2 separate regions of the Homo sapiens genome follow, and region 2 is linked to region 1. The links come from fine-mapping of genetic effects on gene expression. A gene starts in region 1. The other region holds a variant in brackets. All regions are shown on one strand. Distances are from middle to middle.

The links. PIP is the estimated chance that this variant, and not a neighbour inherited with it, causes the effect.
Region 2: its variant is fine-mapped to the expression of MAST4-AS1 in whole blood (INTERVAL, PIP 0.95).

Annotation. Positions count from the first base shown.
Region 1 is chr5:67,001,468-67,006,852 of GRCh38, reverse strand. MAST4-AS1 (MAST4 antisense RNA 1) reads left to right here and starts at 2,699. Exons shown (of 2, transcript NR_111908.1): 1 at 2,699-3,009; 2 at 4,804-5,235. All of the region lies in intron 4 of MAST4 (microtubule associated serine/threonine kinase family member 4), which reads right to left. RefSeq lists a silencer at 2,482-2,821.
Region 2 is chr5:67,028,234-67,033,618 of GRCh38, reverse strand. All of the region lies in intron 4 of MAST4 (microtubule associated serine/threonine kinase family member 4), which reads right to left. Among named protein-coding and RNA genes, the nearest start is that of MAST4-AS1, 27 kb to the right of the region's middle. The variant T/C (reference allele first, on the strand shown) is at 2,543.

The sequences.
Region 1 (5,385 bases):
GCTCTCCCATTTTACTGGGAAGAATTCAGGTTTCCTTAGAATCTAGGCTCTCTGTCAGTGTGAGCTGTCTGAATTGGAGTGTTCAGGCTGGACAGGTACTGCCCTAAAGCCAGGCTCAGAGCAGCCTGAGAATCCTCCTGCATCTGACTCTCTCCAATAATACTATCAACAGGTAGGTAGGAAGAAGAAAGGCTCCAACTGCTCTACGGGTTCAGACACACACATACGATGCCAGAACAGACTTCTCTCCCTAAGAACTGGTTCCAGGTAAGAGTAGAGGCTGTACCGCAGCCAGGACTACACAACTCAGAAATATTTAAGGGATTCTGTCCAGCTGAAATGGTAAGAAATCATACGAATTATCACCATGTTGAGCAGTGGCCTAGTTCATGTGTAGCATGTATCTCTCTTCAACTTTATTAGTTGTCTTGGAGGTTTGGTGCATGGTTGACACAACTTGATGAGCAATACTACAAAATGAGCAATACTACAAGAGAGGGTCTCTGACCATATATGGCAGAACGAGAAAAACATAGTCACATTACTTAAAAGGTACAACTTCAGAATCCAACATAGTTTAGTGGTATCAACACTTCAAACTGCATCAAAAAGCAAATATGACTTTGAAACCTGCCAGATGTCTCTCTCATACACACAGGTGCACATGTGATTTGTGTGTGCACCCATGTATATAAACAGTGTATGTGAGTATTCCAGGATGTTTCTGAAATGTAAGAAACCATGAAAAACTTCAAAAGGAAAAACTAAGTTTTCTAAAGTATCACATATCCACATTTATACTACAAAAAGTTACAGGTATAACCAAAAAGAACGAACCATTTTCTTGGGTTCTTTGAACACTGAAGCATAGAGATTGTGAAGCTCCAAATCTGAGAGCCTGCATCCTGTTTATCTGACTGCAAAGTTGCTCTCATGCATGTTCACATGTACATGCAAGGCAAGTTTTGAAGGAAAACAAAGAATCAGTATTAACACAACTCAAAAGGTGTGCCCCTCTAAAAGTACAACAATCTTACTTTTCTGTGCTGGACACAAATGTGGTGAGAAATGCCTCCTTCAAAGTCATAGTCTCTCAACACAAGTGTCAGCAAACTCTTGGAACTGCCTGTCACTTGTGGCATGAGCTTCATCTTGACATTAAAATTCTTTTTCTTTCCCCATCTTTTCTATCAAATATACGTTACAAAATGAAAAGGACACTCCTGTATTAGTAATAAATGCCAGCAAACCATTGAAAAATCAAAATGACAAAGTTATGTAGATCTGCCTCTCCACAGATAGTATGAAATAGCTAACCTGGGCTATCCTTGCATCGTACATCTGCATCTTATAAAGGTCAAATATTTAATAGAGAGGAACATCTGAAGGGCTCAACGAAAAGTACCAGAAGCCTCAATGACTGGGTGAATGAAATGGATAAACATGATCAGGTCAAAGGGACAGACTTAGACAAAGTATCTCCTCCTCTTTCCCTTTTTCTCCCCCACCTCTCACAAGGAAATGTCTTATTATCCACATTTCAAAAGGAGAAAACCTATGAGAAGCACATTTATCAGGGTTACCCAGGAAACCACAAGGACGAAGAAATACCTGAAACAGTACCCCCTCCCCTAGCGGGGCATAAACTTTTCAAAGTGTCACCCAATACACAAAACCCCAGCTCCTGAGGGGCTCAGGCAGCTCCGCCTGTGGGCCCCTGGGAAGTGAAAGCATTCCCTCTCCAGGCAGAGATCCCCGCGTTTTTACCTTTGTGTTCGCCGAAGCCTGTTCCCACTCCTCAAATGAGGCAAAGTAAAGTTTGAGAGCACAGTCCAAAAATTGGGGTCAGACATATCCATTTCTTTCTCTCTTCAATTCACTGTGGGTTCAAGGCCATATGACTAAAATGGGGAGAGGTAAAAAAAAGGAAGAAAGACAAGGCCAAAAATAAAAAAAAAATCCCAATTATCTACTCACTCCCTCCAGAGAAAATGTGATGGGAACTGTGATCTCAAGAACAACTTGGAGCATGTCTGAGAAGTACCCGTCCCGTCCTAGCCTTTAATTAACACACAGCCTCCTCTCAAAGGTCCGGGAAACTGATTTCCTCTCGGGTCTGCCCTCTCCTAGTCAGGCTCGGCCAGCTATAAACAGTAATTACATGAGTTGAGCCGTGCGTTCTGCTCAAAGCGCTGTCTGTGGGATTCAGTCGGAGGTACTTTGTCATCTGTTTGGCAGATACCACTCGCCGCTTCTGCGAGGGGCGGGGGAGACGACTATTTTGAGGCTTTGGTTCCGGAGGCTGTTGCTTATCAGCAAAACCATTCACATCCGAACATGCCCAGTGCCGAGTTTCCTTTTGGTATCTACATACAAGGAAAAGAATTTGAATAGAAAAAGCTGCTCTTGCCCTCCCCTCCTGAAAAAAGCGGAAACTTAAAAGCACTTTTAAAAAATGGGCCTATTGGAGGACTTGAACCTGACACCTTTGTGGACCCTTCCAGGGTCCGGCTGGGAGGAGGCGGCAGGGCCTTGTCCCTGGACAGCTTGGTGGCCGCGCCCCCAGCTTTCCTGCATCCCCCACCCCCCACCAGCCCCGGCCGCGCCTGAGGAGCGGGGGCTCACGGGAAAGGGAGCAGGCGGCCGCGGCGCGACCCCAGCCGGTGCCGGGACAGCCCCGCAGCCTGGGCCGCCGCTCCCCCTCCCCGGAGCCCGGAATGGATCCGTCCCGGAAATAAATAAATAAACCCGCGGCTGCTCCGGGTGTGTGCTGCGCGCACCTGAGGCCGACCTGTGATTCACCGCGGGAGGGATGGCAGTGACAACGCTCCGGGGAAGTCCACAGTGACTCCTCCGCCAGGACGCCGCTGGTTGTATAGGAAAAGCACGCGGACGGGAAGCCACACTCACCGAAAACCTCAGTAAACTAAATTTATGAGTTTACATCTGTTCCATCAATGACCACGGTGCACACCTGTTTGGCTTCATGGCCGGCAACTACAGATCTAGGTAATGGTGAGCCCCGATGTGGAAAGACACTACCTGGCATTTATGTGGCAAATGCTACAAGTATTGCCCCTTCAAGTACGTTAGACCTTGAAAGGGCAGAATGAAGGGGGCTGAATGTTCTTGTTATTCATTTTGAAGAAAGGCATGGTATTTAAATATCTCCCCCTATCCATGAATGTTTGTATAAAGTACATAAAGAAAAAATATAATTTAAATTAGCTGCCTTAAGTCTGGTGTAATATGGCAAGAAATACTAAATCAAAAAAGTATATATTCAGCAAAAAATACATCTAAAAATGGCTTAGTCCATGCAGTAAATACCAGGAACAAACTCGCTTACAAAAATGGGAGGATAAAGAGAAGGAAGAGGGGGTGTAAGCTGACAAGGTAGGCGGGGTAAACAAAAAGAAGCCTGCTGTGGGATCTTCTTTATCTAATTCTTGTGGCCCACATTAATATTTTCACACCAAGGACTCCAAGAGTTTTGGATGATGTTTCATGTCCAAGGCTTTCGTATGCGTTATCTCCTCACATTCTTACAGAGCCTCCACAGATCCTTGCAACCCACAGAGGTAGACAAAGAAGGCATTATTTTCTCAATTTTACATTTGGGACTTTATCCCAAACATTCAGGGACACTAAATGACAAAACACACTTCAATAGATATTAATGAGCTTGGTCCAGCATTTTTGCCCCATGCTCTTCTTTTAAAAAATGTTTCTAAGTATTGCAAAAGATGTTTTGAAGGCTGACACAAAAGAGTGTCCCTGTGCTCCGGAGCAGTTTCTAGACCTCAGCACTGTTGACATAGGCTGGATAATTCTTTGTCTGAGGAGCTTTCTTGAGCATTGGAGGATGTTTAGCAACATTGCTGACCTCGACCTACTAGATGCCAGTGCTGACAATTAAAAATGTCTGAGGACATTGCCAAATGTCCCTTGGGAGGTAAAATCACCCCTGGTTGGGAACCACTGCTCCAGATAAAGGCTTCTCTGAGAGGGGTGATACAGAGCACTGGTTTAGAGCAAAAATTTTGGGTCTGAATTCTGGATACAACACTTACTATGACCTTAAATCTCTTCTCATTTTCCCCAGCTGCAATATGGGGTCCATAATAGGACCAACCTGTAAGAGGCTGATATACATAAATGAAGAGGAGATGGCATACATAAGCCCTTTCACGCAATGTCTACACACACACTGCGCATAAATGTAGGCAGTATACAGAAGCTAAGAGAATACTATGCTGACAGACATAAGACTGGAGCAGAGGACACCCCACAATGTGCTTCTTTCTACTCTCTAGAGTCTTCAACCAGGCTGCTGATCACACTGTGTATAATTGACTGTTTACTGCTGTCTTTCCAATTAGTCTGAGTTCCTCAAGGCTAAAGTCACATTTTACTGATCTTCATATTTTCAGAACCTGACAGCTCCTCAGTTTATATAGGCATTTAATATTAGTAAATCCTTTTTGAATGGATACTTCAGAAGCCCAAGTATCTCTTATTTCTCTTAAGATGCACTGAAACTATTAGTACTAGTAGATCTGTATTCTCAAAGAATACTGAATTTTTGAGAATCCCATGAAGACGGTAAATTCTGAAGACTTTCTCTTAGTGACTTATTTGTATCTATATCATGTAGCTGGAAAGATATCAGTGCTAACATTCCTCAGGTCTTTACATGGCTCTAAGAAATGTCACAATCAAACTCAAGGGGAATTCCCTTTGAGTCCCATGTCCCCTCCTCAAAGGCAAGCCCAGAGAATAACTTTTTGTGCTCACTTGTAGGTATCCAAGATCAAGAGGGACAATTACATATTATAAGCCGCACAGAGAAGAGTAATCAAGGTGGACATGAACTTGTGCTATATAAGTTATGGGTTGAAGAACTCTGTGGAAAGTAGAGAAGAAAAAATTTAGGGAACAAGCAGTAGTTGAATACAGCTATGTGAAACTATGAGAACTATGTGAAAGAGTGTTTGGATCCAAAGATGAAAGAGCTGACACAAGAGTGGATTTTCTGAGAGCTGTTTGAGCAGAGAAAACTTGAAGGAGATACAGTGAGTAGAACACAACCTGTAGGTGGTTTGAAGACCTGAGGACTCCAATACCTCCCAACTCTCATATTCTCTATAGTTTTTCTAGAAAAGCCCATGTATTGGGGCATAACCTATAAAGATGATAGCAACTAAAATGGATAAATCAATGACATAAAATGTTTATTTCTTCTCTTGATTAAATGACAGATACCCCAATCTGCAGGCATCATATGTTATGACTGCCTCCACTCTCTGCATTTTGAGAAAGCCTCTACAGAAATTCTCAAAGGAATGGGTAAAGACATGAGTATTTTTAACTACATATACTTTA
Region 2 (5,385 bases), 27 kb before region 1:
GGCACCACACATCACTGCTTTAGCATTGTAACTGTTTCACTAATGTAAACTAACACTCAGCTACTTCTGAATCTGCTGCTTCATTTATGACTTTGACCAGGAGTTTCTGTTCCTTGGCCAAAAAACACAGAATATTTTTTAGAATATAAATCCTGCCTATGCCTATGTTGCAATATACTATGCCAAACTAGCTCAGCTTGACTGCTTTTTTTTTTGCCTGTATAGTTTCTTCAAAAAGGAGAAGTATCTGTAACAATCTGAAAAAAAAAAAGCCACACACACACACACACACACACACACACAGAGAAATGAAAACCCAAAAAAGTAATCCTTACAACTCTCAGCTGAGAGAAAAATTTCACTGTTATTTTAATGTTAATAGCTGCCACTTTTTAAAAAGTGTTATCAAGTCAGCAAGAGTGTTTTTCTTTCTTTTTTTTTTTTAAGGGTTAGATGTTCACAGTAAGAACTAATTAACTGCCAAGAATGAGATGGGTTTCCAAAGGAATGCCATTCTCCTCATCAAATACTAGTTTCTATTTATTTTAAGTATGACCATTCATTCTTAATCTGAAAGTCTTCGTAAGCATGGTTAGAACAGGGCAAAAAGTATTTATATATGATTCTACAACATAAAGTAATTATCTTAGTGTTGGATTGAAATTCACCTGTATACATATAAATATGGTACATCACTTTTCATAGTTTGTTGTCTGTACAATATTGAACATGAAATAAATGGCAATAGGTCTGAGCTACTAGATGTTATTTGTAGTTACTATAAGTGTGTTTGTGTATTTCTGCTTAAAATATAGATACACATCATTTTCTTTTTCAAGGGTTTTGAATTCTGTTGTTCTCAATAATCCTCTCATCATTTACCTAAAAGTCTATGGTAAATAATCATTGTACATACTGACACATGTGACCATATGAAATAGGTAAACCACTGATCCAGACAGACCAGACTATGCTGCTGAAAAATCATCAAGTCAGGTAAGAAGTAACCCTTATTTTGTTCTTGATGTAAAATAATTCTGCCCTCCCCCAAAATAAAAATGGCGTTTAAAACCGGTCTTATTTATTCTAACATGATACCTTATAGCTCTCCTACTAGGCACTGCAGACAAGCATGTATCTTGTTCTTTCTGTGACCCTAATGCAATACCTGGCACAGAGGCATGCTTAATTAAACCTTGCTGAATAAATGAATATTTTGAAAGAATAAGCCAATAAAAATGAGAAAAGATAAATTTTGCAAAAAACGTGGGTGGGGAAGTTTAGTCATAATAAAACCCAACCTTTCTTAAATCTCCCCCTTCTCAAATTAGTGGAAGTTTCCATTTTACAGTTTCTCCTAAAGATCCTGGAATCTTCATTAGAAAGCAGAGATTGTGGGTCAGGCTGTGCTGAGAGGTAACAAAGTCAGATTTTTTCATTGGCCTCCAGAGGCTTAATCTAAAATGGATTACAGGTACAGCAGGATAATTCACAGAAAGATTTAGGCAACTGCAAACATTCTGAAAGAATCTATAGATTAAATGAGTTAAAGCAGCCATGGAGCAAGAGTTTTTGGAAGGGGGGCAGATTGCTTTTGACAAATAAGCACCCCTTCAACGCAAGTGACAGAAGTAGGTCACGATGAGTAACTGAATTTTCCACTGATTCATTTCCACATATATCAGAGGCAGTAAAGGACACCAGTGATCTAGTTCTCCACCTGTAAGAGCTGTACAAATTAGTTCTCTCACGAAAGAAGGTGGAATAAAAACTGACCCAGCAGGGAGAACTGCCATCCTGACCTATGAATAGGTCACTAGGCAGTAAGGTCAACAGGCCTGACAGGAATATTCACTTCAGAGAAGTCCCCCATCTTTAGAAACTCTAACAATTTAGATTGTAGGGATATGGGAACAAGATGATTCCTGCTCTTTCTCCAGCTAACAGATCAGCACAATCAGGTTTAATGGTGTTATGCCAATTAACATGTATTTTACAAATCTTCACTAAGTCTGTACGCAGTTTTTCAGTGTTTAACTTTGAATGCAAATAACCTCTACTTTAAGTGTGATAGGGAAAAATTTTGCAAATCATGTCTAAATACAAATTCATTTATTTTAGTGCAAATGGAGCATACCACTGTAAATGTCAAATAGTCACCATCCATTATGATAACAGGGCCCAGCCAATCTTTCCAACTTATTCAAAGTTCACTGCATGAATGATCCAAGCCCTCAGTCCCTAGACAGAACTTAAAATATGTCCTTATTAAAAAATTCAAGGGCAATAAATCAGGCTAAAAAGGCGACAAGAGACGACCCTCCTCTGCCATCAACTCTGGGAAATGCCCAGGGCTTTCTGCTGGACTAGCCAGGGAGCTGACAGATTCTCTGTATCTATGCAGAGGAAAGCAGCAAAGAGTAGCAATTTAAAGACTGATAATCTCCACCCACCAGGAACTGATATTAATCTATTTAATAAACGCATACATTTTAGTCTAGTCAGAGATCATCCACAGATGAAAGTAAATGCTTTTTTCACA[T/C]AGGAAAAAAATATCCTATGTGGAAGTGTTATCCCCAATAGACATCAATTTTACTTTTTACAGGACAGTTAATGAGTTAGGCAGCATTATCCACACTTTAAACAAAAGTAGTCAAATTCTAGCAACTTCTGAAATACCAGCCAAAGCTACAGGAAAAAAATTTCACCATAACAGTTAATTGGCATAGAATCAACACCCATGACCTTGGCCTCTTTAGCACAATGTTCTATTGCACTAAAATACTAAATAAAAACATAGCGTTTGAGATACCCAAGGCTTTATAAAAGTAGACGTTGTAAGAGAGTGACACAAACACCCAAGATAAAAAAAGTGCTGAGGTACAGAACACTTAGAAGAGGTTAGGTGTTCCAAATATACAATGTTTGTATGGTTTTAATGTTTTAAACTAAACTCCCTTGAAACTACACAACAGAATGGAAGGGCTTAAAACCACAACCTCATTACTAATACAAAACAGATCTTATTTTAAATATCACCCCTTAGGACTCTGACCAATTTGCCCCAGGCCTGCTCTGGAATGGTGATGTACAGAAATGAAAAGGTATTTATTTTCTGAGTTAAAATGTCACTCAGATGATCTATTTTTGCCACCAGTGCTATGGTTACCTCTTCAAAACCAAAATGATGATTATGTCATTTTACCACAGCTATCTAATAAACATCAGATGGTCATCTCAGAGCTCTCATTCAGTGCTAACCTGGTTCAAGCCAAAGTTTAAAAAGAAAACAACCCTAAACCATCAAATATTGCTTGTAACACTATAAAACAAAAGAGATACGGAATACAGGTATCACACCATGCTATTACTAAATTAACTATAGAGCCTTTATGTTGTATTGCCCTGAGAAATGATTTGTTAAATAAAAACCTATAAGGATGTGAATGACCCATATGTATACAAAATATTTAGATAATAAAAATACACATTTAATTTGAAATTTGGTTTTACAATTTCCTAGATGCTCCTAAATATATATAACACTTAACAAGGAATCATGTGAAATACTAGTAAATTTCAACCTTAAACATACATTTTTATTTAATTGAAAAAATTTCATTAAACAAAATTTAAGTATATAATTTAGAGAAATTCAAATGTATAAAAATAATATATAAGTCTTAGTTTCAGAATAATTAGGATTAACTTTGTGCAAACTCGTAAACAGGACAAACTTCAAGTCCACAGCAATTTCAATAATGTTGTTAATATCAAATTATAAAGTCAACAGCAATGAATTTATATTTTCCTTTCTCCTACCTTTTTCACATGAGGAAATGTACTTTCCTTCTAAAACTCCTACTATTCCATCCACCTCACTTTCATTCTTCATGGACACAGAAATCATGCTGCCAATAAAGGTTTTCTAAGTAGCAAACACTTTTTGTTCTTATCAAAAAATAAACAAACAAAACCCAACAATCAAAACACACCATCACCTTGCCATAGAATTTTGCAACCCCAATTTCCTGCTCAATTTCTTTCAAACCTCTCCAGCCTAATTTCCTTTTTCTTAGAGATGAAATACACAGAATGGTAAGGTCCCTCAATATACTTAACTAAAAGAAACATGCTAGCAGTTTGATGACATTTCAGTAGGTATCTGATCCTCCTACAAGCAAAGATGTTTACATCCCGAATATTACTCCAAAGTAAAACAAAACATATATGCCTATGGGAAACATAAGTATAAGGATGGCTCTATGGCTTGTCTTTCCTAGAAAACACTTTTAAAATCATGTACAAATTGTCTCCCCATCCCCACCTCCATTTCTCTTGGGAATGCAGAGGGCCAGAAACCTTAGACTCTGACCTGGGTCTAAGCAGACCATAAATACTTGAAGCTGCTGGAAAATAAATATTCAACACTAATTACCTTTGGCACTCTTCATTAATCTTTATGTATATGACTTTTTTTTTTTTGAGAGAGTGTCTCGTGCTGTCGCCCAGGCTGGGTGTAGTTACGTGATCATGGCTGCCTGTAGTCTCAACCTCCCAGGCTCAAGTGATCTTCTCACTTCAGCATCTCAGGTAGCTGGCACTACAGGCACATGACACCATGCCTAGCGAATTTATTTATCTTTTATTTTTGTAGAGATGGGGTTTTGCCATGTTGCCCAGGCTGGTCTTGAACTCCTTGGCTTAAGCGATTCACCCACTTGGGCCTCCTAATGTGCTGGGATTACAGGCATAAGTCACCATGCCCGGCGGTGGATGACTCTTAATCCCCAATCTGGAACTCTCTTGCCTTCCATCCAGATCCACATATCCAGCATCTCCACTTGGGTGTGTCTATAGAAGCTCCAGTCCAATGAATCCCAAACTGAAGATATCATCTTCATCCAACGTGTCTTGCTTCTGTGTTCCCAATTTCAGTAATTGGTACCATTGTCTAACAGGCTAAAGCAGAACTATGAGCACAACCTCCACTTTAGTTCTTCTTCACTCTAATCACTCAGTTAGTCATCCAGTCTTTCAGAATCCACTTCCTGAGCGTCTCCCTTCATTCTCACGGTCACCAGCCTGCTTGTGGCATCATCACCATCTGCCCCAGAAGCCCGTGATGCTTGCTCTAACTCAGATCCTGGAATCCTTTTTGCACAACTCCAGTTCAATCCCTCATTGCTAGGAATCTTTCCTACAGGCAAATGTGATCTTATTGTCCTGTACAAAACCCTTCAGTGGCACCTCCTACCCTCAGAGTACATTTCCTGTTTGCCACTCTAATGGAATTGCTCCTCAACTCTCACTCGAGTCTCTGTACGATAGCTATTTGTTTTGTATTGTTGTTGTTGTTGTTTTGCCTAGATTACAGTCTTCCAC